Linked DNA regions of Homo sapiens: regions 1, 3 and 4 are each linked to region 2. The links come from fine-mapping of genetic effects on gene expression. A gene starts in region 2. Each other region holds a variant in brackets. All regions are shown on one strand. Distances are from middle to middle.

What was found. PIP is the estimated chance that this variant, and not a neighbour inherited with it, causes the effect.
Region 1: its variant is the best candidate, but not a certain one, in a credible set for the expression of ABHD5 in whole blood (INTERVAL, PIP 0.53).
Region 3: its variant is the best candidate, but not a certain one, in a credible set for the expression of ABHD5 in whole blood (TOPMed, PIP 0.68).
Region 4: its variant is the best candidate, but not a certain one, in a credible set for the expression of ABHD5 in nasal epithelium (TOPMed, PIP 0.57).

Annotation. Positions count from the first base shown.
Region 1 is chr3:43,660,923-43,668,834 of GRCh38, forward strand. It overlaps a transcript of ANO10 not described here. Among named protein-coding and RNA genes, the nearest start is that of ABHD5, 26 kb to the right of the region's middle. The variant T/C (reference allele first, on the strand shown) is at 3,319.
Region 2 is chr3:43,686,545-43,694,456 of GRCh38, forward strand. It overlaps ABHD5 (abhydrolase domain containing 5, lysophosphatidic acid acyltransferase), which reads left to right and starts at 4,394. Exons shown (of 7, transcript NM_016006.6): 1 at 4,394-4,495. The coding sequence starts at 4,449. It also overlaps a transcript of ANO10 not described here and the pseudogene TUBAP3. RefSeq lists a silencer at 4,566-5,045.
Region 3 is chr3:43,639,659-43,647,570 of GRCh38, forward strand. It overlaps a transcript of ANO10 not described here. Among named protein-coding and RNA genes, the nearest start is that of ANO10, 22 kb to the left of the region's middle. The variant A/G (reference allele first, on the strand shown) is at 4,249.
Region 4 is chr3:43,865,476-43,873,387 of GRCh38, forward strand. The region is part of intron 1 of LOC107986081 (a long non-coding RNA gene); the gene reads right to left. Among named protein-coding and RNA genes, the nearest start is that of ABHD5, 180 kb to the left of the region's middle. The variant T/G (reference allele first, on the strand shown) is at 3,750.

The DNA of each region.
Region 1 (7,912 bases), 26 kb before region 2:
TAGCCTGGGCAACAAGGGTGAAACTCCATCTCAAAAACAATAAAAAGAAAACACTCTTCAGGATATTATCCAGGAGAACTTCCCCAACCTAGCAAGGCAGGCCAATGTTCAAATTCAGGATATACAGAGACCACTACAAAGATGCTCCTCGAGAAGAGCAACCCCAAGAAACATAATTGTCAGATTCACCAAGGTTGAAATGAAGGAAAAAAATGTTAAGAACAGTCAGAGAGAAAGATTGGGTTACCCACAAAGGGAAGCCCATCAGACTAACAGCAGATCTCTCTGCAGAAACCCTACAAGCCAGAAGAGAGTGGGGGCCAATATTCAACATTCTTAAAGAAAAGAATTTTCAACCCAGGATTTCATATCCAGCCCAACTAAGCTTCATAAGTGAAGGAGAAATAAAATGCTTTACAGACGAGCAAATGCTGAAAGATTTTGTCATCACCAGGCCTGCCTTACAAGAGCTCCTGAAGGAAGCACTAAACATGGATAGGAACAACCAGTACCAGCCACTGCAAAAACATGCCAAATTGTAAAGATCACTGATGCTATGAAGAAACTGCATCAATTAATGGGCAAAATAACCAGCTAGCATCATAATGACAGGATCAATTTCACACATAACAATATTAACCTTAAATGTAAATGGCCTAAATGCCCCAATTAAAAGACACAGACTGGCAAATTGGATAAAGAGTCAAGACCCATAGGTGTGCTGTATTTAGGAGATCCATTTCACATGCAAAGACACACATAGGCTCAAAACAAAGGGATGGGGGACGATCTACCAAACAAATGGAAAGCAAAAAAAAGCAGGGGTTGCAATTCTGGTCTCTGATAAAATAGACTTTAAACCAACAAAGATCAAAAGAGACAAAGAAGGCCATTACATAAAGGCAAAGGAATCAATTTATCAAGAAGAGCTAACTATCCTAAATATATATGCAACCAATACAGTTGCACACAGATTCATAAAACAAGTTCTTAGAGACCTACAAAGAGACTTAGATTCCCACACAATAATAATGGGAGACTGTAACACCCCACTGTCAATATTAGACAGATCAACGAGACAGAAAACTAACAAGGATATCCAGGACTTCAACTCAGATCTGCACCAAGCGGACCTAATAGACATCTACAAAACTCTCCATCCCAAAACAACAGAATATACATTCTTCTCAGCACTACGTCGCACTTATTCTAAAAGTGACCACATAATTGGAAGTAAAACACTCCTTAGCAAATGTAAAAGAACAGAAATCACAACAAAGTGTCTCTCAGACCACAGTTCAATCAAATTAGAACTCAGGATTAAGAATCTCACTCAAAACTGTACAACTACATGGAAACTGAACAACCTGCTCCTGAATGACTATTGGGTACATAACAAAATGAAGGCAGAAATAAAAATGTTCTTTGAAACCAATGAGAACAAAGACACAACGTACCAGAATCTCTGGGACACATTTAAAGCAGCAGTGTGTAGAGGGAAATTGATACTACTAAATGCCCACAAAAGAAAGCAAGAGAGATCTAAAATCAACACCCTAACATCACAATTAACACTACTAGAGAAGAAAGAGCAAACAAATTCAACAGCTAGCAGAAGACAAGAAATAACTAAGATCACAGCAGAACTGAAGGAGATAGAGACACAAAAAAATAAATGAATCCAAGAGCTGATTTTTTGAAAAGATCAACAAAATAGACCGCTACCAAGACTAGTGAAGAAAAGAGAGAAGAATCAAATAGATGCAATAAAAAATGATAAAGGGGATATCACCACCAATCCCACAGAGATACAAACTACCACCAGAGAATACTATAGACACCTCTGCGCAAATAAACTAGAAAAACTAGAAGAAATGGATAAATTTCTCGACACATACACCCTCCCAAGACTAAACCAGGAAGAAGTTGAAGCTCTGAACAGACCAATAACAGGTTCTGAAATTGAGGCAATAATTAACAGCCTACCAACCAAAAAAAGTTCAAGACCAGACAGATTCACAGCTGAATTCTACCAGAGGTACAAAGAGGAGCTGGTACCATTCCTTCTGAAACTATTCCAATCAATAGAAAAAGAGGGAATCCTCCCTAACTCATTTTATGAGGCCAGCATCATCCTGATATGAAAGCCTGGCAGAGACACAACAAAAAAAGAGAATTTTAGGCCAATATCCCTGATGAACATTGATGCGAAAATCCTCAATAAAATGCTGGCAAACCGAATCCAGTAGCACATCAAAAAGCTTATCCACCATGATCAAGTGGGCTTCATCCCTGGGATGCAAGACTGGTTCAACATATGCAAATCAATAAACGTAATCCATCACATAAACAGAACCAACAACAAAAACCACGATTATCTTAATAGATGCAGAAAAGGCCTTCAACAAAATTCAAGAGCCTTTCATGCTAAAAACTCTCAATAAACTAGGTATCAATGGAACATATCTCAACATAATAAGAGCTAATTATGACAAACCCACAGCCAATATCATACTGAATGGGCAAAAACTGGAAGCATTCCCTTTGAAAACTGGCACAAGACAGGGATGCCCTCTCTCACCACTCCTATTCAACATAGTATTGGAAGTTCTGGCCAGGGCAATCAGGCAAGAGAAAGCAATAAAGGTTTTCAAATAGGAAGAGTGGAATTCAAATTGTCTCTGTTTGCAGATGACATAATGGTATGCTCAGAAAAACCCCATCATCTCAGCCCAAAATCTCCTTAAGCTGATAAGCAACTTCAGCAGTACCAGGATACAAAATCAATGCGCAAAAATCACAAGCATTCCTATACACCAGTAACAGAGAGCCAAATCATGAGTGAACTCCCATTCACAATTGCTACTAAGAGAATAAAATACCTAAGAATACAACTTACAAGAGATGTGAAGGACCTCTTCAAGAAGAACTACAAACCACTGCTCAAGGAAATAAGAGAGGACACAAACAAATGGAAAAACATCCCATGCTCATGGATAGGAAGAATCAATATCATGAAAACGGCCTTACTGCCCAAAGTAATTTATAGATTCAATGCTATCCCCATCAAGCTACCACTGACTTTCTTCAAAGAATTGGAAAAACTACTTTAAATTTCATATGGAACCAAAAAAGAGCTCACATAGCCAAGACAATCCTGGGCAAGAAGAACAACGCTGGAGGCATTACACTACCTTACTTCAAACTATAGTACAAGGCTACAGTAACCAAAACAGCATGGTATTGGTACCAAAACAGATATATAGACCAGTAGAACAGAACGGAGTCCTCAGAAATAACACCACACATCTACCACCA[T/C]CTGATCTTTGACAAACCTGACACACACAAGCAATGGGGAAAAGATTCCCTATTTAATAAGTGGTGTTGGGAAAACTGGCTAGCCATATGCAGAAAACTGAAACTGGACCCCTTCCTTACACCTTATATAAAAATCAACTCAAGATGGATCAAAGACTAAAACATAAGACCTAGGGCCATAAAAATCCTAGAAGAAAACCTGGGCAATACCATTCAGGACACAGGCATGGGCAAAGACTTCACATCTAAAACACCAAAAGCAATGGCAACAAAGGCCAAAATTGACAAATGGGATCTAATTAAACTAAAGAGCTTCTGCACAGCAACAGAAACTATCATCAGAGTGAACAGGCAACCTACAGAATGGGAGAAAATTTTTGCAATCTATCCATCTGACAACGGGCTAATATCCAGAATCTACAAAGAACTTAAATTTACAAGAAAAAAGCAAACAAGCCCATCAAAAAATGGGCAAAGGATATGAACAGACCCTTCTCAAAAGAAGATATTTATGCAGACAACAGACATATGAAAAAATGCTAATCATCAATGGTCATTAGAGAAGTGCAAATCAAAACCACAATGAGATACTATCTCACCCCAGTTAGAATGGCGATCATTAAAAAGTCAGGAAACAACAGATGCTGGAGAGGTTGTGGAAAAATAGGAATGCTTTTACACTGTTGGGAGTGTAAATTAGTTCAACCATTGTGGAAGACAGTGTGGCAATTCCTCACGGATCTAAAACTAGAAATATCATGTGAACCAGCAATCCCATTACTGGGTATATACCCAAAGGATTACAAATCATTCTACGATAAAGACACATGCACATGTATGTTTACTGTGGCACTATTAACAATAGCAAAGACTTGGAACCAACCCAAATGTCTATCAATGATAGACTGGATTAAGAAAATGTGGCACATATACACCATGGAATACTATGCAGGCATAAAAAAGGATGAGTTCATGTCTTTGCAGGGACATGGATGAAGCTGGAAACCATCATTCTCAGCAAACTATCACAAGATCAGAAAACCAGACATCACATGTTCTTACTCGTAAGGGGGAGTTGAACAATGAGAACACATGGACACAGGGAGGGGAACATCACACACCAGGGCCTGTGGGGGGTGGGCGGTTAAGGGAGGGATAACATTAGGAGAAATACCTAATGTAGGTGACAGGTTGATGGGTGCAGCAAACCACCATGGCACGTGTATACCTATGTAACAAAACTGCACGTTCTGCACATGTAACCGAGAACTTAACATATATAATTTAAAAAAAAGAGAAAAATCTTGGTCATCTAGCATTGGTGATCTTAAGGCACTTATTATGGAGAACTCAAGTTTGCCTTCTTTACTGTTCTCTTGCCTTCCTTTTCATTTACCTTCCTCTCTGTCAACACCTTTCTAAAAACATATTGCTCCTGCTCAAGAACACAATATGAGTAATTCGCAAAATCTTCAGGATTCACTGGTTGGTCGTAGCTCTGACTTTGAGATCCAATTAGCTAGTTTAAATGTAATTATATTATTCAACCAGTTATTTGTGAGTGAAGTTGAATAATGCTCTCATTGTATGCAACGCCAGGAACTGATGGTTGTATGAAATGTTCAATTTAACATTTCCCAACTTGGTGGTGTTTAATTATACAATTATAAAGAGGTTTCAGCATGTGCTTTTATGTTAGGTATTTGTTTTTGTTTTCAATACACTTTTATTTTAATAACTCCAAAGGAGCTACAGAACGTGCAGATGACAAAAAATATATTAATGTAATTTTAAGTCATTTACATGTTAAGGAACATTTAAATTTAAAATAATACTATATTTCTGTCATATCTTCAAGGATTTTAATTCAAACCCTGATTTGTATGCTATTCAACGTACAAACACTGGTTTTGAAATAAAACCTATATTTCAAGCTTTAAAGAATAATTCAAAAGAAGTACTTAATGTCCCTTTGTTTTCTTTCTCTCAAGAGAATAAAAAGTCTCCCACTTGAATAAAGGCTAAATTACAGTGATGATTCAAACAACTGGAAAAGAAGAGATTAAGAATTACAGTTACATGGAGTATGAATTATCTCATTCTGGATTGGGGGAATTGAATTTTTAACTAAACCTCGTAATTAGTTTTCTGTAAGTTGTTAAAATAGCTAAAAATTAATGTAAGAGACCTAATTTTTTCTTGTTTGGGGATTTAGCCAGTATTCTATACATTTTCTTTAGAGTGATAATTGCTTTCTTGTCATTTGTTTTCAAGAAATAAAGATGATTATAATTACACTGACAAGATACTCAAGATGGGAAAGACTATATCTATATATCTATCAATCAATCATAGATATCTATCAATATTCTCAGTCCATTCTGTCTCAGACTATTCCTGCTTCTATAGTAAAATAGATGGGTAATTTATAAATAATAGAAATTTATTTCTCACAGTTCTGGGGGCTGAGAAGTCTAAGATCAGGGTGCCAGCAGATTTGCCATCTGTTAAGGGCTTGCTCCCTTCTAAGAGAGCTCTTGGGTGGCTCTTCTTGCTGCATCCTCACATGGAGAAAAGCCTGAATGCTGTGTCTTCACATGGCAGAATGGCAAATCATCACATTGTACACCTTAAATATATACAGTTTTTAATTTTAGTAGGGTATATGATTTGATTAATGTTAGCATGGTATATCTTTCTCCATCCATTTATTTTTAATCTACATGTGTAATTATATTTAAAGTGAAATTTATTGAAGGGAACATATAGTTGGATCTTGTTTTTTGACCCTTTCTTGTTTTTTAATCCTCATGCATTAAAATACAATGCATGTTTTTTTTTTTTTTTTTTTTTTTTTTGTCTTTTCTTGAGACAGAGTCTCGCTCTGTCACCCAGGCTGGAGTGCAGTGGGGCAATCTTGGCTCACTGCAAACTTTGCCTCCTGGGTTCAAGCAATTCTCCTGCCTCAGCCTCCTGAGTAGCTGGAATTACAGGCGTGTGCCACCATGCCCAGCTAATTTTTGCATTTTTAGTAGAGACAGGGTTTCACCATATTGGTCAGGCTAGTCTCAAACTGCTGACCTCATGATACGCTCATGTCAGCCTCCCAAAGTGCTGGGATTACACGCGTGGGCCACTGCACCCAGCCCAATCCATGTAATTTAATTTGTGTAGTTACACTATTGTTTTTTAAAATTTTTTGATTTGTATTTCAATAGCTTTGGGGGTACAGGTGGTTTTTTCTTACATAGGTAAGTTCTTTAGTGGTGATTTCTGAGATTTTAGGGCACTCGCCACCTGAGCAGTATACACTGTACCCAATATGTAGTCTTTTATCCCTCATCCCACTCCTGACCTTCCCTGCACCCTAAGTTCCCAAAGCCCATTGTATTATTCTTATGCCTTTGCATCCTCATAGCTTAGCTCTCACTTATAAATGAGAACATATGATATTTGGTTTTCTACTGCTGAGTTACTTCACTTAAAATTATGGCCTCCAGCTCTATCCAAGTTGCTGCAAAAGACATTATTTTGTTCCTTTTTATTCCTGACTGGTATCCCATGGTGTATATATACACTGCATTTTCTTTATCCGCTCATGGGTTGATGGGCACTTAGGTTGGTTCTACATCTTTACAATTGCCAATCATGGAGAAACATGTGTGTGTAAGTATCTTTTTATATAATGACTTATTTTCCTTTGGGTAGATACCCAGTAGTGGGATTGCTAGATCAAAAGGTAGTTCTTTTAGTTCTTTAAGGAATCTCCATGCTGTTTTTCATAGTTGTACTAATTTACATTCCCACCAGTCGGGTAAAACTGTTCCCTTTTCACCACATCCACACCAACGTCTATTGTTTTTTGACTTTTTTATTATGCCCATTCTTGCAGGAGTAAGGTGGTATCTCGTTGTGGTTTTAATTTGCATTTCCCTGATGATGAGTGATGTTGAGCATTTTTTAATATGTTTGTTGGCTGTTTGTATATCTTCTCTTGAGAATTGTCTATTCATGTCCTTAGCCCACATTTTTATGGGATTGTTTTTTTTTTCTTGCTGATTTGAGTTTCTTGTAGATTCTGGATATTAGTTCTTCGTTAGATGCAAATTTTGTGAATGTTTTCTCTCACTCTGTGGGCTGTTTGTTCTGCTGATTATTTCTTTTGCTGTGCAGAAGCATTTTAGTCTAATTAGGTTCCATTTTTTAATTTTTGTTTTTGTTGCATTTGCTTTGGGGGTCTTAGCCATGAATTCTTTGCCTAAGCCAGTGTCTAGAAGAGTTTTTTCTGATGTTATCTTCTAGAACTCTTACTGTTTTAGGTCTTAGATTTAAGTCTTTGATCCATCTTGAGTTGATTTTTGTATACGGTAATAGATGGGGATCTAGTTTCATTCTTCTGCATGTGGCTTGCCAATTTTCTCAGTACCGTTTATTGAACAGGGCATCCTTTCCCCAATTTGTGTTTTTGTATGCTTTGTTGAAGATCAGTTGGCTGTAAGTATTTGTCCTTATTTCTGGGTTCTCTATAGATCATTGATGTTTAACATCATTATTGATATACCTAGATTAATATCTAGTATAGTTGGTACTGTTT
Region 2 (7,912 bases):
CAAACTGCTAGGATGACAGGCGTGAGTCACCACACCCAGCCCAAACTCTCATCTTTATAGATGAGGATTAAGAGATGTAGACCTTGCTGTCCAGTATGGTAGCTACTAGCCACGTATGGCTTCTAAATTTTAACTTAATTAAAATTCAAAATTCAGTCACACTAGCCAAATTTCAGATCCTCCACAACCACATGTAGCTAATGGCTACTGTATCAGAGAGTGTGGGTCTAGAACATTTCCATCATTACAGAATGTTCTAACAGACAGGGTTGCTCTAGAGCTCATTACTTAAAGGGTAGTCTGCTGATTGGCAGTAGGAACACAGGCATAACTAGGAGCTAGTTAGAAATAGAGATCTCAGGTTCTACCTCAGACCTACAGAGTCAGAATCTACAATTCAACATGATCCACAGAAGTCTGCATGCAAATTAGAGTCCAAGAAGCCCTAAAGTCATGTGATTTTTTTTTTTTTTTTGAGAAGTCACTACAGCTGATTGATGTTCAGGCCCTTCCCTTGACCCAGCTACCACTTTCCCTTATCATCCTGTGTCCTTCTTATTATCTCCCTGCCACATTTGCTTTCTCAATATGTTTTATTACAGCATTTCTTTATAAACATTTACAGGCTGGGCATGGTGGCTTACGCCTATAATCCCAACACTCTGGGAGGTCAGGAGTTTGAGACCGGCCTGGGCAACACAGTGAGACCTGTCTCTACCAAAACCAAAAAATATTTACAAAGCAGCCAGGCCATTGAAGCCCTCATAAAACATCCCCTTCTCCATGCCCTCACTCTCATTCTGGTTTGTAAGTGCTTGCTTGGCAGGCTTGTGATAAAGGCCCAGGCCCCTGTGATGGTTGTGGTATTGCTCAGCACTTTGCCTGGGGAACTACTATTGGAGGGCTGGAAATTAAAGCCAACCTGAAACCCAGTGGGGCACCAGTCATCAACCAAGTGTATGGCACACTTGGTCTTGGTGGGACAATGGCAGCATTCAGTCTTTAGGCTACAACCCTGGGGCAGAACATGCAGAGCAAGCTCTGTACTTGCTTTGGTCAGTGTCATATCTGGCCATCTGATTGGAGAGTACAAAGTAGGTACTGGCGATCTCCAAATGTAAGCACTGCTCAACCAGGTAATTGGTTAGTAGGTCACAAAAAGGAAGTTAATTTGGAGGTAGGGGACCAAGCTGGCCTTAAACTCTGAGAGGTCTGCTTTCAGGGTACCATCAAAGTTCAGGGAGGTAGTGATGGAGGAAGTCTGGTCCAAGCAGTGGTTAAAGTATGTGGGGCCCTGGGGGTATAGGTTGCAATGACATGTGTTGGTCCATTGTCTCCCAAGAAGACACAGTCCAAGGGTTCCAGGGTGGCACGGTGGTCAGGATAGAGTTGTAGGGTTCCACCATTGCTGGCAACACCCAGGGGATAGGTGGATGGCCAATTCTAGCTTGGATTTCTTGCCATTGTTGAAGATGACTCCATCAGCAGCAAGGTGAAGCTAGAACAGAGCTACTCCCAGAGTTGAGGAAGATCATGAAGTCCTGTAGTCCTATGCACTGCTTGTCAGTTTCTGCATAAACTCTAGTATTGGATCAATGGTCTCTTTCTCTCTTTTTTTCTTTCTTTTCTTTTTTTGTGACTGTGCAGCAGGCACAGGCATCTTTGAGAGCAGACTCCAGGTCCATAAAGACCAAAGCGCTACAGGAGTTGCTGCAAAATCCTAAGGTTTCATTACTGGACTCAGTACCACTGGGCTTGCACTGTGTTCCAGGCGGTAGGGTCTTCAACAGACACTCTGAGAGGTGGGATTGTAGGGCATCAGTTTCTGCAGACACACTACAAGTGTCTGGCAACACTATTGTGGAGGCTAAAGTAACTCCATCTCAGATGCTAATCCACAATGTTGATTTCTGAGTAACCCCAGTTTTGGGAAGGCCTCCAAGTTTTCTACTTTATCTATTGTTCCTTGTATAAGAGCATGTGACAGGCTGTTCTTACATTGTTATAAAGAAATACAGCTGGGCGCGGTGGCTCATGCCTGTGATCCCAGCACTTTGGGAGGCAGTGGAGGGAGGATCATTTGAGGTCACGAGTTCAAGACCAGCCTGGCCAACATGGTGAAACCCCATCTCTACTAAAAATACAAAAAATTAGCTGGGCGTGGTGGCGGGTGCCTGGAATCCCAGCTACTCAGGAGGCTGAGGCAGGAGAATTGCTTGAACCTGGGAGGTGCAGGTCATAGAGAGCCAAGATCATGCCACTGCACTCCAGCCAGGGCAACAGAGTGAAACTCCGTCTTAGAAAAAAAAAAAAAAAGAATTACCTGGGACTGGGTAATTTATAAAGAAAGGTTAATTGGCTCATGGTTCTGCAGGCTATACAGGTGCTGGTATCAGCTTGGCTTCTGGAAAGGCCACAGGGAGCATTTACTCACGGCAGAGGGCAAAGCGGGAGCAGGCATCTTACATGACTAGAGCAGGAGCAAGAGAGTGAGGGGTAGGTGCCATACACTTTTAAACAACCAGATCTCACAAGAACTTACTATTGCAAGGACAGCATTAAGGGGATAGTGCCAAATCATTCATGAGAAATTCACCCCCAGAATCTAATCACCACCCATCAAACCCCACCTCTAACACTGGAGATCACAATTCAACATGAGATTTAGAGAGGACAACACCCAAATTGTATCAGAGCACATACTTACCTACCTGCCCTTAGGTCAAAACAACCTTAGTCTGGGAGGGTAACAGCACAGAGATTTACCTGTCTTGCTGCTGTCCAAGACCATGCTTCTGTCCGTAAGTTCCCTAATAAATCACCTTTTGCTGACAAGCTGGATTTGTCTCCTTCATTCTTTAGTTTCTCAGCTCCTTCTGTATTTGGAGGTCACTTTGAATATACGGCCCTTTCATGAAACAACCAGGAATTCCTGTAAAAATGTTTTTTATATGTTCTGGTCTTCCCTAAAATATTTTATGAATTAGATCAAACACAATAAAAAATGTATTAGTTATTACTATGCCTAAGAGATTATAAGTGGCTTTCCCCCCTCTAAATTACAGAAGACACCATTCCTATCCTAGAGGACTTTCTCGTGTAGTTGGAAAGATATTCGATAATGTTTATTTAAAAGCTGTAACAATTACACAAGGCTGAGAACCTGAGAGCTAGATGGGTGATAAAGACAGGTTTACAGTGGGGCTCAGAGGAGAGAAAAAGAGGGAGGAGAGTCAGGGAAGGAGAACAATGAACTGAGTCTAAAATAAAGGTTAATATATTCGCGTAGGATCTATCAAAACAGGAGCAGTATTTCAACCCATTGTTTTCAAGCACCTAGAACAAAGTGAGCCCATAGTAGACACACACCAAACATAAATGGATGAGTAGTAGTGGGTGGCAGAATTCCAAAAGCAGGTTGCACCTGATTGCTAAAAGGCTTGAAAACAGGTCAAGAAATACTGCTATTTAGGTTAGTCATTTCACCTCAATAACTCGAAGTACCTAAACATAGACTTTTTTTTTTTTTTTTGAGACGGAGTTTCGTTCTTGTTGCCCAGGCTGGAGTGCAATGGTGCGATCTCGGCTCACCGCAACCTCCGCCTCCCGAGTTCAAGCGATTCTCCTACCTCAGGCTCCCGAGTAGCTGGAATTACAGGTATGCGCCACCGCGCCCGGCTAATTTTGTATTTTTAATAGAGACGGGGTTTCTTCAGCTCAGGCTGGTCTCCAACTCCCGACCTCAGAAAATCCGCCCGCCTTGGCCGCCCAAAGTGCTGGGATTACAGGCCTGAGCCACCGCGCCCGGCCAACACCGACTCTTTTCACCCTCCCAGGTATCTAGAGAGTCGAGTGGGAGGGAAATTGCTGGCTCTGGCCACTACAGTAACATCAGCACCTAGAGCAGTGCTCAACTGACTGAAGGCTCCTGTGAGTCGCCCTCTCCCCCTGGCCCCCCAACCCGCGGGGAAAGGCTGGCGGGACGCCACACAGCACCTCGATTACGCCATTTCATTTGCCACTGCACCATCTATCGGACACTAGCTAGGCTCTTCCAGGACCGGACGCACCTCCGTCCCCAAGGTGCCACCTGACAGCCAACACCGACGGGGTGATGCATGAATACAGTCATTATTCAAATTAGCTAAAACACCTAACTCATTCGGGTGAGTCTCGCCAGTCCCTCTGGGCTGACTGTCCCGCCCCGCGCTTACACCCGGGAGCGTCGGGCGGGAGAACTAGTGCATGCTGGCTGGGGATGGCGGACGCAAAGCCGGAGGCAAGGCCGCGCACGCGCAAACGCGGGCGCGCCGCCGGGCCGTGCTAGTGCGCGGAAGACGCATGCGCTGGCGGCCTGCGCCGCCTTAAGTGCCGCGCCAGCCCGGGGCGGCCCAGTCGGCCTGTCAGCCGGCTTCGAGATAAGTCCCGGCGCTTGCGCGGCGGCGGCTATGGCGGCGGAGGAGGAGGAGGTGGACTCTGCCGACACCGGAGAGAGGTAAGCGCAGCCGGCAGGGGGCTTCGTGTGTCTCCGGCGCGCACCCTCCGCGCGGGCCGGGTTAGGGCCCAGCGGGCAGCACCAAGGAGTCGCCGCCCGCCTGGCGACGACGGGCGGCTTCCTCGACCCTCCCCGGCATGAGTCCGCGCGGCGCCCAGAGGCGTCCCGGCGCCGCTCTGCCTGGGAGAGGCTCCCCTCAGCGTCGGGGCCCCGAGGTGTCTGAGCCGGACTCCGGCCGCGCCGGGAGGCCGCCTTGACCCCGCGCGGAGGGTCCGCCCCGTTGTTGTATAAGCCACCCCGCGGGCCGGCGACGGAGCTGGCCGCGGCGGCCGCACCGGCTCGGGCTCTGCCAAGGGACCCGGCCTGCCCCAATGCCGCCGGCGGGCGGTGCCCGGTCGACCCTGCACCTGACTGCGAGGCGCGGGAAATGACCGGGTCTGTCAGCCTCCCATCGCGGCTTCCGTCTACAGGTACTACCTGTGCTCTGTCCAGCCTCAGCCACTGGACGATCCTTCCCGTAGCCGTAGGAAGGGGCGGCGCTTCCTTGGAGGGGATATTAGAGGCCCGAATTCGCCCGGGAAGCGGCGGGAGGGCGGGGGTGCCGGGAAGGAGGGAGGGGAGAAGGAGTGAGGGAAGTGGGTGTATGGCTGTGAGTTTCAGATACTTCATAGAAAGAAAGTTAGCCCTTAAGATAGAGATACACGTTCAAATGTCATAATTCATCTTTCGGATGAAGGTCTTTGGCTTGCAAGCTCCACTGTCCCTTATTTGTTTGCGCTTCTGGGATTATTCTGGCTTTACTGGCGAAGTGTGTGTTGCATGTGCCTTAGAAGAACACACATAATGTATAGGAAACTGTGGAAGTTGGAGGGCAGATGTCTAATGTGAAACTTTTTTATATACAGGTATAGTGAGTTTATTCTTTTCTACACCTAAATGACTTCTTGCACTTGTTAGTAGAAGAATAGTAGTTAATGAGTGGAATAATTAAATTGTTATGGAGGTTATTGCCTTGTTTCTCAAGGCCTGTCGTTTGTATTGGAAAGTAAACTTCCCCCATATATATTTAATTTTTTGACGTCGGTTCTACTTCAGACGTCTGGAGAAATTTGCCTAGGAAACATAACCTAAATGATAGAATATGGAGTACCATGAAGACAGGGATATTTGGAAAGATGTCATGGGGAAAAATTGTGAAATATTAGAAAGGAAGTTATTCTCTTGAGTTTTGTTTATTTGTTGAGGTTTGTTGATGAACTTCCTCGTTGCACTGAGGTGAAATGTTGAATGTCATGTGGACGCAAGTAGGAACGTAATTGGTAGGTTGTGTTCTCATCTTGTTTGTCACAACATTTTTGACTCTTGACACTACTTTCAGGTGGACTATTTGGTTTTGATGTAGTGGGGCCTTGGAGTCCAGGACACAATCGTGAAAGGGTTTTATGGCTTGGAGTGATGGTTGGAGGTCATTGGAGGTAGATGATTAAAAAATCCTTAGCAGCTGATCAGCCATAGTTTCTAGACAGAAGTGGGCTTCGCTGGTATTCTTGGCAATATGCTTTAGCAGTGTCCAGTGACTATCCCCAGAAGTGATCCTGTTAAATCCAAGGTTGCCCCTGTGTGCTGGGTATTATTGTTCCCATTTTGCAGTTGAAACTGCCACTGTAAAGGCTGCTAACAGCCTGCCAGCAAGTAGCAGGGCTGGATTGGAACCCTTTGTGGAACCCTTTGAGGTGTCTGGATTTAATCTAAGGTGCTTACCCTGTATCCCTGCTGCCTGTCACTGGAATTGGGACTCATGTGGGATGTTTGGCTCTTGTTTGAATACAGTTCCCTACCCTTAAGACATTTGAGGTTTAGATAGGGAGATAACATTAACAAAGGAAAGTTATAAAATGGTCATCTGATGGCTTTTTGGAGAATATGATTCTTGTCCTTTGCTTTGTGGCACTTAGTGAAGACAGGCATACTGGGATCCATTTTGCTTTCAACATCCAACCCCTTTCAGTTGCAATACAGTTGAGAAAGCTAAATGTAATGAGAGTAGAGTAGACTTCTGTGAATTGCTTTAAGTTGTCCTAGAGAATGATTTAGTGTCAATTGAGTTGAGAGAAAGCTGTCACAGAATTGCTCAGTTGCAGGGTAGACCATAAAAGAGGTGATTTGCAGTTGTGTGCTGGAGTTGATTTGTACCAGCAAGCCATTGCTAAATTTTCAGGAATTTTGCCAACGGTTGGCAGCTTGAAATTGGCCATGGTGGGAGTATTTACACCACGGAAATCATCAAATGCTATAAATAAGGTATAAATAAGGGATTTTTCTCTCCCCTCCCTGCTTCAGTTTGTTTGCCAGCTCCCCACTGGGTTTACATTAGACTGTGAATGTAGGTCTTTGCCTTGGAGATAGGAGAGTGGATTTCTCTATCTAATCTTTTTAAAAACTGGCAAGATATGTGCCTTTCTCTCTGCTGCCTTCTCTCCTTCCCAAACCTTTGCCACCTGATATCTTAAAAATCACAAAACTTTTCACTGCCACATCCCAATGGCCTTCTAGTTTTTTTCAGTACTTCTTCTTGGGTCCTTTTTGGTGTTTGTTACTGTAATGATAGCTACTACTTTTTGAAACTCTTATTAGACATTCTAGGTCTTAATGACATTTTGCCTTTTATCTTACCTTACCTGACCAACAATAACTTTTATTAGTTTCTCCTCTTTTTTTTTTTTTTGCATTCTCTAAATGTAGTCATTTTCCAAGATTCTGTCATCATCCTTGTTTTTATTTTTCATCTTGTTTACTCAAACGTGAACTGTCTTGTCTGTGGAGATGACTCAGATCTCATTTTCTTTCTGGAGCCCTCTTCTGTACTCTGGTAATGTTTCTAATTGTCAGATGTTTGTGCCTGATTCCTCAAATTTAACATGTCCAGACCATGATCTTATTTTTACCTTCCTGCTCCTAAACTAAACGATATAAAAAGCTTAGTTCTGGCCGGGCGCCGTGGTTCACGCCTGTAATCCTAGCACTTTGGGGTAACACCGTGAAACCCCGTCTGTATTAAAAATACAAAAAAATTAGCCGGGCAAGGTGGCGGCGCCTGTAGTCCCAGCTACTCGGGAGGCTGAGGCAGGAGAATGGCGTGAACCCAGGAGGCGGAGCTTGCAGTGAGCCGAGATCGTGCCACTGCACTCCAGCCTGGGCGACAGAGCAAGACTCCGTCTCAAAAAAAAAAAAAAAAAAAAAGCTCAGTTCTTCCTCTTGAAACATTATATTGGCTTAATCATTGCCTTGACTAATTGTTAGATTATTAGTTTAATCTCATGGTTCTGTAATTCCCACTCCTGATTGTGAGTTACTAAAAAAAATCATATGGAGAGGTGATTTTATTAAAACTGATTATTCAGTTGAGACCTAGGATTT
Region 3 (7,912 bases), 47 kb before region 2:
CCAGCTACTCAGGAGGCTGAGGCAGGAGAATCCCTTGAACCAGGGAGTCGGAGGTTGCAGTGAGCTGAGATCGCACCACAGCACTCCAGCCTGGCGACAGAGTAAGACTCCATCTCAGAAAAAAAAAAAAAAGAAAGAAAGAAAAAGAAAATGTAGACAATTCTGCCTTTTTAGAAAGTAGGACCTGGCACAATAGTATACTTTCAGATATGAGCCTGTTTGGATGGCACCCCAGTTCATTCAGAGAATGTCTCCAGCATTATTTTGTCTTAGCACAACCAGCTGAACTCACTGGAGTGTCGCTAGCCTAAGCAAGCCTAGTCCTGAGAGTCGGGGTTGCAGAAGATGTATGTTAGGGTGAAAGTGGGGTGGTAAAGGAAGAGGACACAGAGTAGGTCTGAAAACAGTGTTCTGGACAATCATTCCAAAATGAACCACTCTACAAAGCTTTACTTGAAGGATTGATATTTAAACACATCAGTCATTAGATGTCTTTATATTTAATGGGTTTCAATTTCACAAGACCTCTCATTGCTGGTTGTGTGCTTTGAGGGAACAGGGAAGAAAAGGTTAAAAAATATACCCCCAGCTTATAATGTGGAAAGAGTTTACTTGAAGCTGCACCACTCAACCAAGTCCATTCTGTTGTTTCTAAACCAACAAAAAGCATGGTGAAGAGAAGGCATCTGGTGGATATTGGCTGAATTTTTTTAAAAACAACTGGCTAGCAGGGCAAAGCATCAACCCTGGCCAGTGGAGAACTTGCCATCTTTGCCTGGCACTACTTCATTCCACTCCTCCCTGACCCCAGTCAGCAGGTACTCCTTCCTCCCAGGCCTTTGCACAGGAATCATGCAAACTGGAACCCATCCCATGCACTAAAAAGATTCTGGAAGTTTCATTTCTAATGTTCCTATTTTCTCACCATGTAGCAAAAAAGCAGAAGAGCACACACTCCCAAATAAAATGGTGAATTCTTTTACTAGCAGTATTCTACTGAACAGAACTCTTTTAAAATGCATTTTTCCATTGCCACATTACAGTGATAATTAATATTCATAATAATGACCTTGAAGGTCTCTCAGAGTCTGAGGAACCTAATGAATAATTAAGAGAATGAAATGGTTTTCAATAAGATTTCATGCTTAGTGCTTTTTGTATTCTAATACTTTTGATAGATTGTCATGGTTGATTGTCTAATTCCCCAGTCATGCGAGTAAACAGAGAATTTAATGTGTTTCAAGGGGACTTCCATGGTAAGTTATTTGCAAGCATATTAAACCAAAATCTGAAGTGCATTAAAAATCCTCAGCCAACGCTAGCATACACGCAGGCTGCCACATGAATTGCAGCTATAGGGAGCTATGGCTAGCTGGAACCACTCAGAATCCATCCTTTTCCTTCTAGATAGAAAAAGAAAATAATTATTGGAACTAAGGATAATTATACATAAAATTATATACCAAAATATTGTTCTTATAGTTGAGGATTCATTTGTTGCTCTTATTCATTGTCATATGTTTAAAGAATTTGACACAAGATTGATATCAAAAAATTATCTGGATTGGGGGTTCCTTTCCTATTCCTGGTGCCACTTCATGCTGTAATAAACTCTCACTCTTGTTTCTTTCTTGTTACCCCTGTTATGGTAGACATATCACTCTACTTGGAGAAAATTCCAAATCACTGTTTACAGTAGAAGAAAAATCCAATACCTATATTCGGCAGTTGAAAGACCAAGATCCCAAAAGGTGATATGACTTATACAAAGCTACATAGCAAGTTAGTTATAGAGCCCAATGAGAACCTGTGTTTCCCAACTCCCAAGCAAAGGCCTTTGTGCAACATCCATTGCCACACCAAAGCCAATAACTGCTAATGAAAGTTCTCCACCCATTGCAGCCACGGAAACTGAAAAAACTACTGAGAAATGTTATTTCAACAAATGCATTTGACTTATAAGGTTGAAGTACCATATATTCTATTGAAAATGTCTGAATTGAAAGGATTTAAGTCACTTTAAGCAGAAAATTAGAGCACACATGGCACTGTCTATTTTTAGGATCTCTGAGTCTCAGGCACAGGCATTTTAGTAATTTAGATCTTTACATGAGTGCTCCTCCAAGTTTTGTTTCATCTTCAGAATGGAGGCCATGTCATCAAGCGAGTGTGGGAAGCTTGAGCTCATTCTACAGGAGGTTATGCCAGGTGCAGGAAAAGGGATTGCTTGGTGTAATAATTAGATCCTTACCACCTACCCACCCACCCACATACAGACATACACAGATACACACACACAGCTGAGCCATTTGAAAATAAACTGTAGACTCATGCCATTTCATTGCTAAATATTTCAACATGCATTTCCTAATAAGGACATTCTCCTTACTGGTGAGAAATGATATTTCGATGCCAAGATCAAGGGGCAAGGTATGTTAATTGACACAAGGGTATCATTGCTTCAAAGCCCTTTCAGTGAACAGATCCAGGAATGACAAATACACTTTTAAAAGGTTATTTAATGTGAATTTCTCAATGCAAATTTAACCTTACAGTGTTTTATTTTAAGTTCTTTGACTTAATAGTTGTTTTTGCCTCTCTTTTCTGTTACACTGAAAGTTTTGGTTTGTAATAATATAGTGTTTCTTTCCTCCTAATTCAGAATTGTACACTTGTTTTCTCCTAGTTCAGAATTATAATACTATATAAATAATAAATTACTGACTGAAATTTAAGATTTCCTTCTATTCATTTATCCTTAGATCAAATCCATTATGAGTGTATAATTAAAGTACTGAAATAATTCTGTTCTTTGTATAGCTGTGGTTGCCACATTTGAAATAAAGTTAAGCTCATTGGTCCCAATTGTTTTCCATTTTAGGATTTTACTTTTGTCTTTTTTATTTGAATTTTTTAAATATATAAAACATTTATGTGGTCCCAAAGTTAAAAAATACACGAAAAGGTAACCAAACCCACAGAAGTTTCACTCCTAACCCTCTCCCTTCACTTCATTCCCCCCACCTCCTATAGGTAATTATTTTTATTGCTTCTTTTTGCAAATATAGGCGAATACCTAAATATATTCTTATTCCTCCTTTTTCCCCCTTACACACAAAATATAGCATACTATACTAACTTTTTAAATCTAAAAATATATTCTGGAGATTGTTTCAATTCACAGACATTTTTTTTTTTCTGTGTTTTATGATGCCTGGTCGCCAATTCATGTATGTACTGCAGTTTATTTACAGCCTCTCTTGTTGGTGGATGTTTAGATTATTTCTAATCTTTTGCTACTGCAAACAATGTTGTGTTACATAACCTTGTGCAAATGTTACTGATTATTTGTAGAGATGTATTTTCTTTTCTTTTTTCTTTTTTTTTTTTTGAGACGGAGTCTTGCTCTGTTGCCCAGGCTGGAGTGCAGTGGCGCAATCTCGGCTCACTGCAAGCTCCGCCTCCCGGGTTCACGCCATTCTCCTAACTCAGCCTCCCGAGTAGCTGGGACTACAGGCACCCGCCACGACGCCCGGCTAATTTTTTGTATTTTTAGTAGAGACGGGGTTTCACCGTGTTAGCCAGGGTGGTCTCGATCTCCTGACGTCATGATCCACCCGCCTCGGCCTCCCAAAGTGCTGGGATTACAGGGTTGAGCCACCGCGCCCTGCCTGAGATGTATTTTCAAGGTAGATTCCTAGAAACGAGATTGCTGGGTGAAAGGTTAGCACATATGTAATTTTGCTCAATTTTGCCAAATCCCCATCCATAGGGTTTGTTCCATTTTGCATTTCCACTCTCAGTAGAGTATGTTATAAAATGTTTGGATCCAGAAGAATTCTAATTTGCATTTCTCTTATTGTAAGGGAAATTGGGCGTCATTTCATATGTGTAGGGAGTGACTTGCATTTCTTTTCGCTCTGTTCTCACATTTCTCTCTTTTCATGACTTTTGCCCATATTTTTATGCAATTTTGGAGCTTATCCATTGTTAAAAGCTTTTCATGTACTTGTCCTCATCTTTTCTTTTTTTTTTTTTTTTTTTAGATGGAGTCTCGCTCTGTCGCCTAGGCTGGAGTGCAGTGGCGCAATCTCGGCTCACTGCAAGCTCTGCCTCCTGGGTTCACACCATTCTCCTGCCTCAGCCTCCTGAGTAGCTCGGACTACAGGCACCCGCCACCACGCCCAGCTAATTTTTTTGTATTTTTAGTAGAGACGGGGTTTCACTGTGTTAGCCAGGATGGTCTCA[A/G]TCTCCTAACCTCATGATCCGCCCGCCTTGATCTCCCAAAGTGCTGGGATTACATGCGTGAGCCACCGCTGAGATAACTTGAAATTGGTCTCTCCTGGTCTGTCATTTGTTTTTTGACCTTGCTTCTTGTATTTTGTTTGTTTTAGGTAGTAAAGTTCACCAATCTTTCCCTGATTTTTTTGTTTGTTTGTTTGTTTGTTTGTTTTTGCTGAATGTTGAAAAGGCTTTCCGTGTCCCCAGGTTATAAAGTAATTCACCTGTGCCAAACCTCCTTGATTGCACATTGTATATTTGGATCTCTGGTCCATTTGGGATTTATTTTAGTGTGAGGTTTAGATTCACTCCATCCTTTTTCAGGTGGCTTTCTATTTGTCCCAACACTATGTATTTAAAAGCCCAGTTTTTCCTCAGGAAATAACTTGATTTAGTTTTAGACTTTAACTTGCTGTAATGCAGCACACAGAGACAAAGAAGCAAACATGGGGGTGGGAGGGTGAGAAATGAGATCAAGGAGTAGACTTGGTTACTCTGCCATAGAGTAGAACTGCTCCCTCCCTCCCTGGAACAGAGAGGAACAATGCACGCACAGTGTGTCTGTGCTGTCCTCCACTGGCCTCTCCAGATCCAAGATCTGGCCTACCTGGCCTGCTCTCCTCCACAAGGCTCACCTCTGTGGATGACATCACTCAGTAGCCTTGCCCCTGGCTTTTGATTGGGTTTACTCTGATGGGGGACTGTCACACTGCCAGGAGATCTGAGCACAAGATAAGAGAAACTGGATTCCCTTTGGCAGGTGCTGCAGTGTGCTCTCCATAACCACCTCTTCAATGGGTCAGCCACCCTTCTGGTTGCAGCTCTTGCTGACTTCTGATAGGCCCTTCCTCCCACTTGCCCTTCAGGCCTGGGCGGTAACACCTTCCCATTGGTGCTGGCACCCTGGGTGTTTCACTGCCCTCAGTTGCTTCCTCAACCTGTCTGCACCTCTGTAAAGAGGCCCTCTTGAACCCTTTTCAGGTATGCCTTCTTGTTCATTGAGTGTGCAGCCTGTGTCCTGCCAGAACCTGGCTGATACCAACGACATCACAAATACATACCAATCCATCTGTCAAAAAGGTAGGCAATATGGCTGTACTCCACCAATCCTAAATTTAAAAATTTACAAAGCCAATAAACAGTCAAGGAGGCCACATCTCATTTAGAGATCTTCAGTGATTCAACTTGATTATTCATTATTTATCTTGATTATCCTCCTTATTCACTATGCAAGGCTCTGGTCTAATTTGTGGTTGGCTTCAGAAAGCAAACGCATCTCAAAGATTTAAGGTTGAAATCCCAGCACTTTGGGAGGCTGAGGTGGGCGGAGCACAAGGTCAAGAGATTGAGACCATCCTGGCCAACATGGTGAAACCCCACCTCTACTAAAAATACAAAAATTAGCTAGGCATGGTAGTAGGTGCCTGTAATCCCAGCTACTCAGGAGACTGAGGCAGGAGACTCGCTTGAACTCAGGAGGCAGAGGTTGTAGTGAGCTGAGATCGTGCCACTGCACTCCAGCCTGGCGACAGAGTGAGACTCCGTCTCAAAAAAAAAAAAAAAAAATTTAAGGTTGAACTCCTCCTAGGGATATTAAAGAGAATATTCTCTGCCTCTGAAGACAATTCCACTAAAAACATTTCTAAAATATTTCAAGCTAGTATTCTTTCTGAAGTGATTGCTTTGAAGTCGGACATGTGCATGTGCAGGCTGTGCTATGTTTGCTTAAAATAAAATAAAAAATAACCCTGCTCCCATTACTCCCAGTCAAGCCCCTAGAGCTATTTCCTGGGCACATTTATTTACTCTGATAGCTCTGCACTTAGCTTTTCAAAGGCTCTGGCAAAGTTATTTAAGTATCTCTGCCTGGTGTTTTTTATTTTTATTTTTTTGAGATGGGGTCTGTCACCCAGGTTGGAGTGCAGTGACACGATCTGGGCTCACTGCAGCCTCCACCTCCCAAGCTCAAGCGATCCTCCTACCTCAGCCTCCCGAGTAACTGGGACTGCAGGCACGCACCACCACACCTGGCTAATTTTTTGTATTTTTGGTAAAAAGGGGTTTTGCCATGTTGCCCAGGCTGGTCTCAAACTCCTAAACTCAGGCAATCCACCCGCCTCAGTCTCCCAAAGTGTTGGGATTACAGGCATGAGCCACTGCGCCTGGCCTCTACCTGTTTTAAGTAGCTTAGTTGACTAGTGGAAAACGTCTGTGGGAAGTTTCTTATTTTTCTGCAGAGTCATGTTCAAAGTTATAGATTAGCTTGTTTTAGTATGTAAATTTTAGTTGTTTTACTCTGATACAATGTGAAAACAAAAGATTCGAGGAGTTCTAATTCCCATGCTTCTAAGAGGGGACTCTTTCCACTTCCCTATTTTGAGCAGGGATGATGAGGAGGAGGGAGAGTAGACCAAGGGCACACTTCTGCCTGCTACCTGTCCTGATCCTTGTATATGCTCATTGTAACAGCATGTGTGGCTGAGATTGTGAATTCGTCTTTGAGTTAGAGAACTAAGATAACAAATTTATGGTGGAAGGAGCCTTAGAAGACAGAGCCATGGTTATGGTCATGCTGAGTCAGTAGTCTCTACTTTTTGTTTGTTTGTTTTTGAGACGGAGTCTTGCTCTGATGCCCAGGCTGGAGTGCAGTGGTGCAATCCTGACTCACTGCAACTTCCACCTCAGCCTCCTGAGTGGCTGGGATTACACGTGCCTGCCACCACACCACGCCCAGTTAATTTTTGTATTTTAGTAGAGACAAGGTTTCACCATGTTGGCCAAGCTGGTCTTGAACTCCTGACCTCAGGTGATCTGCCTGCCTCAGCCTCCCAAAATGCTGGGATTACAGGTGTGAGCCACCACACCTGGCCTCTTCTTTCTTTACATAGACTCATATGACTGTTTACTTCTAGTTCGGTTCTAAAATGAGAAATTTGTGCTGGTCACACAAACTGTCCCTTTCAAGTATTATGGAGTCATCCCTGAAGGTGGGGGTACAACATCTGGAAGGTAAAGACTGGCTTGTTGTGAAAAGCGGGAAAGAAAAGCACCCTCCCTTCCCAAAGAAGAAAATTCTCTTCGACCTTCCAACTGTTAAGGTCTGGAAGTCTGCCATTGGAGTATGATTCCTTTGATTTATGGGTCCAGTCCAGAAGACTGGATGTATTAGTGTGGATTCTTCAAAGAACCAGAACCAAAAAGATATGTGTATATATGTGTGTGTGTGTGTGTGTGTGTGTGTGTGTGTGTGTGTATTCTATACCCATAGATAAATAGATAGATAAGAGATTTATTATGGGAATTGATTCACATGATTATGGAGGGTGAGAAATCTCATGATCTGCTGTCTGCAAGTTGGAGAATTAGGAAAGCCAGTGGTGTGTGTTGGGGAGTTGGGGGAGCGCTGGTATAAGCCCCAGAGTCTGAAGGCTTGAGAACCTGGGGCTTAGATGTCCGAGGGCAGAAGATGGCTGTCTCAGCTCCAGAAGAGAGAGTGAATTCACCCTCCTCCCACAGTTTTATTCTCTCTAGGCCCTCAACGGCTTGGGTGATGCCCACACACCTTGGTGAGAGCAAATTCCTCTCTACTCAGACTACTGATTCAAATGTTAATCTCTTCTGGAAACATCCT
Region 4 (7,912 bases), 180 kb after region 2:
ATAGAGTGAGCTGGAGTCACTCGGCCCTTGAGTCCTCCTTTCCCTCTGAAGCTTGTTGCTGGGGAGGATGGGAGGTGAGGTCACCATGTTCCCCCATAACCAGGTCAGGGTCTGCAGTCCCCCCATCTGCATGCAGCAGGAAGCTGACTCCTCTCCCTCTGTCCAGCCTTCCAGCACATGTACCCCATCACCAGGAAGGTCCTGCCCTGTGGCACAAAGCCGGAGTATACCTGCTGTTGGAGGAAATAAATAAGTAAGGTTAAGAACAAAGACCTCTCAAGTTTCAGCCAAGGTGTGGGCTATAATGGGGGCTGTCTTGTGCCAGGAGGTAATGGCTGTAAATCAGACCGCACTGGATGGAAATTTTGCTGTGTTTTGAAGTCCATTTGGTCTTATTGCTTGTTCAGCTTCTTAATGCATTAATGATAAAACATCAGAGTGAATATGTATTCCAAAAAAATTGCAATTAATCAATACTGCACTTATTCCATTTGGCTGCGACTAAGTGGTAAACAGGACTTAGGCCGGCTCCGTGAGCACAGGCTCTTCTCTGTCTCAAGGCCTTTCCCGGCAGAGTGAGGATGTGAGGGGGTGTCAACTCCTAAGAAGGAAGCAGCTGGCCCAGAGGTCCTGTGGCCAGGTATCCAGGTACATGCTCACGCCTTCTAGGGAGAACCAGCACTGTGGGCCTGTGCTACGAAAGACCAGGCAGTACCTCGTCCACACACCTGCTTACTGTCTCTGGTCTTAGGTTAATGCTTGCAATTTTCCCTCTCATCTGTGAAAATATGACATTAGCCCCACACCTTAGTGGGGCTGAGGACAGGAAGCGATTGATCAAAATGGGTGCCACTGTAAGAATGCAGCAGGTTAACAAGTGTTCCATGCTCATGTAGATGCTGGTCATGCATTAGTTATTATCATTTCCATTCACTCTCACCTCTTAGCCTCTTGGGATCTCAAACGCATTGTCTTCAGCAAGTGCTGCCTGCCTGATTTCAAGAAAAGCCCAGAGCAATGCTTCAAGTCTGAGTCTTAGACCATGATTTTGCAGATAAGGAAATTGAAGCCCACAGAGGTCAAGACCCAAAGTCACACAGCTGGCTAGAGGCAGAGCTTAGTCTTCCCATCCTGGAACTCTGACTTCTGACCATGCCTGACCTAAGTGATCTGGAATGGCAAAGAGTGAGGTCCCCATGCATAGGATATTCTGCAAATATTTGTTCAAGGTGGATTTAAGGGTGAGGCTGAGCTCTGTGGTGGGAATGAAGAAGATTATTAACAGCACTGGCATTCACCTCTTACTCAGCTAAACCAAAGCCCTCACTTAGGGGGACCTACACCCTGGGAGGCTGTTTAGAGAACCTCTGGTGTTTCCCAAGCATTTCTTCAGCAAATTCTTACTGAGTGACCACCTGAGTCAGCCACTAGGCAGTAGAGCATGTCCCTGGGGAACACAGCTTTCCTCCCCACAGGCAATGTAGCAGAAGATTCATTTCAAACACATGCTGCTTGGCATCTTTGCTTCCTAAAAATTCTGGTAAATTTAATTTGCTCCATTTTATTCCATCTCAAGCACCTCTTATTGCCTGGCTCCCGTGATCTGCCACTTTTCTGGCCTTAACCCCTGGATGACAACTCCCCATCACATAAACAAGGGCATATTATACAACAGCACATTCACTGGTCCAACTTTTCTCAGCTCAGGGGTGTTCTGGAAAATACAGTGAGGTCAGCAGCCCAGGGGCATGCCGGTGAAAGGGGAAGACACTGGATAGGTGCTCAATAAAGCCTTCTTGCTTAATGTCCTTCGAATGGCTAAAGACTGGACTCATGTCCCCTTTGAGCCAGGCCCTCCCCATTCCTTCTTCTTTATGTGACGTGCTGTATTAGCTTAGTTCTGTCTTCAGCACTATTCCCAATGGGTCTCTCTCCAACCAAGAGGCTTTCATCTCCATTCCCACTGCTGTCCACAATGGGCGGGCGGGCGGGCAGGGGCAGTGGGGGTGTCACAGAATCAAATTCCCTAGTGCCACCAGCTGCGGAGAAGCAAGGGTGGGGGGGTGACTGGTCAGACTGGTGGGTGTTTCATACCAAGCCCTGCTGTGCCCACTGAGTTGGCCACAGCCCCATGTGTTTGCCATGGCCCAGCTCCTCATCTGGCTGACGAGATGAACTCTTCCCATCGGCCTGATGAGAAGACTCAGGGCTCAGTGTCTGGGTGCTGGCCTCAGGCCTCAGCAGCATTTTCTTTTCCCAGGTGTGGCCATTTTCCTACCAGGATGAGCCACACAGCTCAGTAGCAGGGCTAAGTCTCACCGTGCTGTGGAGCCCAGCTCACAGAGCCAAATCCATTTGCAAAGGAGGGGCTGTCAGAGCTGCTGTTTGTCTTCTCAAGGCTGTGCAGCATCCTGCCTTAGAGTCTCGGCAGCCTTCCAGGGGAGTTTTGCTTTTAACTGTATTATAGTGGTTGGGCAACTTGGGAAATCTGAATTCCATTGACACATTTACAATCCTCTTGCCTCTCAGATCATGAAGAAACTCCATCTCATAGACACAAAGTCTTTCAGAGCTCTGGGCCTCTTAAAGGATAAAAACACTGTCTTATTGGATGGGAAAGTAGAGAATTTCTGGGCAAAATGGCACCCAACAGTGAAGATTTGGGTTCCTTTTCCTCTTGGCTTTTCACTGAGAGAGCAACTCTCTGGAGTAGACAGTCTCTTGCAACTGATCTTTGTTTACTTCAGTCACCACCATCAGAGTGATTTTGTCCACAGAGCCCATGAGCTTTTTAAGGGCTACAAAAGTGTCCCAAGGGCTAGGGAAAAACATGTTGGCAAAACAGTGCTAAAATAAAACTTTATTCGAAATTAATATATTGATAATTAAACAGCTACAAAATTTAACATTTTGTTAGCTAGTCAACTGCAATTCAACTCATGTCCTATTTTCACATGTAAATTCTGTTTGCATAAAGGGTGGGCATGTTGTATATCATGTGAGATGAATCCCTGAAAAGTCAGGAGGCTGTATTAGTCAATGTCCATTGAGGAAAACAGAATGGTCCAGGCCAAGTAGTTGAGATGAGGGGGATTTAATATGGGAAGGGCAAAGGGTCAGAAGAGTTAGCTGCAAAAGAAACAGGAGAAGGAGAGGCAACCGAGAGTTTAGCTACAACTAGAAGCCACCATCACCCCTTGGGCTGGAAGGGTCAAAGGAGGAGGGGATACTCCCAAACTTGGGTTCTAGGGGCCACTAGATAGGACTTGGAAGGAGAGGATACAGTGGGAGGCCTGTTGACAGAAGGAGCTGGACCCATGGAGAACATTCAGCCATTGCCAGAAACACTACCTGGAGCAGGGATAGTGGGGAGAAGTACCCTGGCTCCTCCCTGTCTCTCCTCTCCCAATCTCTCCCCAGAGCCTTTTGATAGCCACACCTATCTGCAAGCCAGTGAGCAAGAACTCCAGGACACTCATTCGCAGGGCTCACCCCTCTACGATGCAGAGAAGAATGGGAAACAGGACACGGCAGGGATATGAGAGCAAACCAGCAAGTGGCCCTACCCGTAGCTTAGGAGGGACATTGACAAGCAGAAGTGTGCTTGTAAGAGAGTGACAAAGGTTGTGAGGGACTCAGGTGCCAATCTTATGAAGAAGAGGCAGGAATCATGAATTGTTGGCTGAACACAGACTTTCAAAGTTCAACCTAGGGAAGACTTCCTTTCAGAGTGTCCAGAGAAGAAGAGG[T/G]CTGCCTTAGGAGGCAGGGAGGGATGAAGGCTAGGAAGGGGAGCCGGGTCAGATGATTTCACAGACCCATTCATTCCCTGAGAGTGTGATCCTGCACTCCACCACCATGATGCTGAGAGCCGGTCCATGTGGCACTGGCTAGACTAGAATGATAATACATATATTGATGAGAGGTTTGCTGCAAAAATGACCCATAACAAACAGCCCTGATAGCTCAGTAGCTTACAGCAACCACTGATTTTGTACCCACCATGTGCTGGTTGGCTGTGCTTTGGCTGGTCTTGGCTGGACTCAGCCAAGTTTAGATGAGAGGGGCTCACTCAGGGCATCAGGTTGGGACCAAGACTGTCCCACAGGTAGAGTGAGCTGTCCCAGCTTTCTGCTGGGGCTCAAGCTGGCTTCAGGAATGTGCTTTTCTTGTGGCAGAGAGTGGAAATGCCAAGAGGACTGGCAGGAACGTGCTATCTGCCTAGGGCCTCAGCTCAGAATGACACACTCTAACTTCCATCCTCTTTCCATTGGCCAAAGCAAGCCATATGGCCAAAGCCAAAGTTAAGGGTAGAGGATCTGCCCACGGGAAAGTCATATCAAGGGATAGGAGGGTAGCAACGATTTCAGACAAGTAATACAATCTACCATGGATAAAAAGAATATTTTAATAGTAATGGGGCAGTATAGCAGAGTGGTTAAAGGGTTTGAGCAAACTGGCAAGGGTTTGAGCTCCACCTCTGCTACTTCTGGACAAAATGGCCTTGGGCAAACTCTCTGGGCCTCCTTTTCCTCATCCAGAAAATGGGAAGCCTAGTATGCAGACCTTCCAGTGTGGCTGTGAGGGAGCGCTGGGCTGACAGATATGAAATGCTGAGCTGGGTGTCTGGCATCTAAGAAGAGCCTAATAGATGCTGGCTGGTACGTTGTTAGGAAGAATCTATTGAAAATTGTGCCTTCTGGAGACAAGGCATGCAGCAAAGGTGAGGGGAGAAACATTTCAGGGAAATAATTTGAAAATCTCTGCATGGTAGGCTTATGAAAAAAGGAAATACCTCAGTAACTGAGTCATCCCCTGAGCTCTGGGAACAGAAAGCCTGCAGGCTGGCACTGTTCTCCACTGCAGAGTTGACAGCTTGTTGGAGGAGGAGTGGCACAAGGTGGGGAGGGGGGCAGATTTCCTCTCCTGACGACTTGCTCTGGTTCACCCACAGCCCCATGCACATAAAGGTCCAGTTTCTGGAAGCAGCCTTAGAAATTCTGTGGAATTTCTGGGTCCCAGGAACTGCCACTTTGCAATTTGAGAATTTAAATATATGTAGATGCTTAGTCTTTTCTTTTACAGAAAGATACAAATTCCTCCAAAAATACATCGTCCTCAATCATTTTTTATTCTTGTGCCTACCCAAATCAAGCCCTAAGCTGTTGAAAGAAAGAAAGTAAATAATAGGGAAAGAGACAAGCAAAAACCAAATCGAAGTTTCAAAAACCAGGTGAAAATCCCACCAGTTATGAGATGGCCTTGATTGGGGGCCAGGAGGGCAGGCGTGGGTTTCCCGGGTCTCTATGTGACACAGTGGTTAGAACATGTCTTTTGGAGTCAAATTGCCTCAGTTCAAACCCCATCTCTGCTGGCCCCCAGATATGAAACTGGGTAAACAAGCCCTTATGAATCAGAATCCTCATCAGTTAAAATCAGACGATGTTAGCTTCTTTCTCACAGGTAATTGCAAAGTTTGCAGGAGATACTAGTGGCTCTTGAAGCACTTGCTATGTGGTGGCCACATGCATTGCTTTTCTTTGTGAAGGATCAACACAGTTGATAAGCACTCTATTAGCCAAGGTCAAGAATTTTATTTCCACATGGCAAACAGAGTGTTTGCTTTGAGAAGAGATCAGGAGGGATGAGGAGGCATGCTGAACAAAATACAACTGCTGGCCAAATTCAGCCCATGGAACCAGTCTGCTGGTTCTCAGCTTTGGAGGCTCAGCAATTAGATTTGTTAATATAACTGTCTTAGTTTGAGTTCCCCAAAGCCAACCCTGAGATGAGGATTCATCTGGAAGCAATTCATTTGAAAAAGATTTATTAGCAATTGTTCCCTGGAAAAACGGGTAGGCAAGTGGGAAAGTAGGACCAAGAAGCAGGAGTGTGACATCCTGCCTGGAGGGTAACTTTGGCTGTTTCCCCCAGGTGAGCTCTGGAGATAGGGCAGGTGACACCTCAGAGTGTCTGGGGGTGGGGGAAGCTGGGGATTGATCAGTCATTAGTCACAGGTAGCCCCAGGAAGAGGCACATCCCAGGCATTTCCAGCTCTCCATGCACACAGGCAAAGTGGGTTTCAGCAGCCTGAGAGCTGTCCTCAGATGCTGGCTGTTAAGGAGAAAGCACAAGAGGTGTCTATGGGCACAAAAATGGTGAAGGGGATCCAAGGAGCTTGGGCAGAGCAAAGCAGCAACTGGTACAACACCCAAAGGTGATAGGTGCCGGGACTGACTTGCAGGAAGCAAACTCCCAAGAGATGGCCACGTTTCCAGGGAGAGACAGAACTAGCCAGCACTTCTGGTTCTCATGTCCAAGGATCCTCAGCCCATGTTCTCCAGGGAAGAAAACCTCTGTTATAAACGGGGATTACAGGGTAATGAGGCACTCACCACCAGAAGCTTGGTTGGATTTCATAATGGCTGAGTCCTGGAGCTTCAGCAGTGATAAGAGAAGGACAGGACTGTTTGTGGGTCAGGACTCCATGTTGCCCTGCCAGAGCTGGAGGCAACAGCATCACGGGCAGCCTTGTGGTGCAATAAGAGACATGCTGCCCTTGGAAGTCAGGTGGAGCCACGTTCCAACCCCGTCTCTTTCATGTTTGAGCTGCGTAACCTTGGGCCTCTCTAAGCCTCATCATCTAAGATCTGCCTGGAATGCCTGCCACCCCAGCCCTTGTAGGGTCGATTCAGAATCAGTGTCTTATACCTCCTCCTTAAAGAGCCACGGGATTCCTGCTCTATGTGAGGGAGCTGTTGCTCAGAAAAGAGTACATGACAATTATCATTGCCTGTGTCTTCCCCTTGGCTAGCCTCCCTGTATTTCGTTGCTCCTCTTTCCCTTTCTTTTTGAGAAAAGGGAGTTTGTCTCAAACTCCCTGAAGCCTGCCCCCTGTTTCTCCCCACCTGGGCTGCTGCCCCCTCTTTTTGTCCTTCCCTCTCATGTAGTCACCACCCTCTGTCTTCATTCCCCCAAGCACTGCTAACAGGATGCTGTTGTGTGTCATGGAATCTGATTGAGGCTGGGGAGTAATGAAGGGGGGTATGACAGAGCCCAGAACAGGAAGCAGCTTTCTCTGCAGTCCTGGAGATGACTGTACTGGAAGGCTGCCGGGCTCTCCCCACCCCTGGGGAGCATCTACTCATCCTTCTTATCCCCAGGCCTCCCCTCCCTCAATGCTGATGGACCCCTCTTGCATGACGGCCCTCTCTCAAGCACACGCTCCCCAAACCTCTCCCAATGCTGGCTGACCAAGGACAGGTCTCAGTGCCTGTGGCCCCATCAGGTGGCCAGCATGGCTCTTCATGGTCTTTACCCCCTTTCCCTCTGGTCTAGACACAGGAACCTCATTTTTCTCTACCATAAACAAACAAGAGGAAAGAAAAACAGAAGGCTTCCCCATTTTTTTTTTTTTTTTTTTTTTTTTTTACAAAAATGCAGCCAAGCCTAAGAGGCTAACAGGGACTTTGTATTTTTCCAAGACGTCTGGATCAAACGGCAGCTTGGTTTTCACAAGACCATCCCTTCCAGACGCTTATTGTTGCTCCCAACCCCACAAGCCTCTCGTTCCCTCTTCTCTTGTTCCCCCTGTGTTCCCCGCCCCCAACACACACTGCCTCTAGCTCTTGAATTCCTCCAATCACAGCAAGTCTGGGCTGCAGCCCTCCTGCCTCTTTAAGGTGACTTGGCATTTCTCTGTGTGGATCCATTTTTGCATGCTTTATGGTTTAACTGGCAGAGGGATGTCTTATTTCCTGATCTCCGAGCTGTCTCAGGCAGTCTCTGCCAACACCCCATGGCACACCATGGGTGCCCTCAGACCTTGTCCACAGCAATCAGCACCTACGCCCTCTCCCACTGCCTGGCTGCTTTCAGATGTCACCCTTAGGTTTTACCCCATCCCATCACCTGC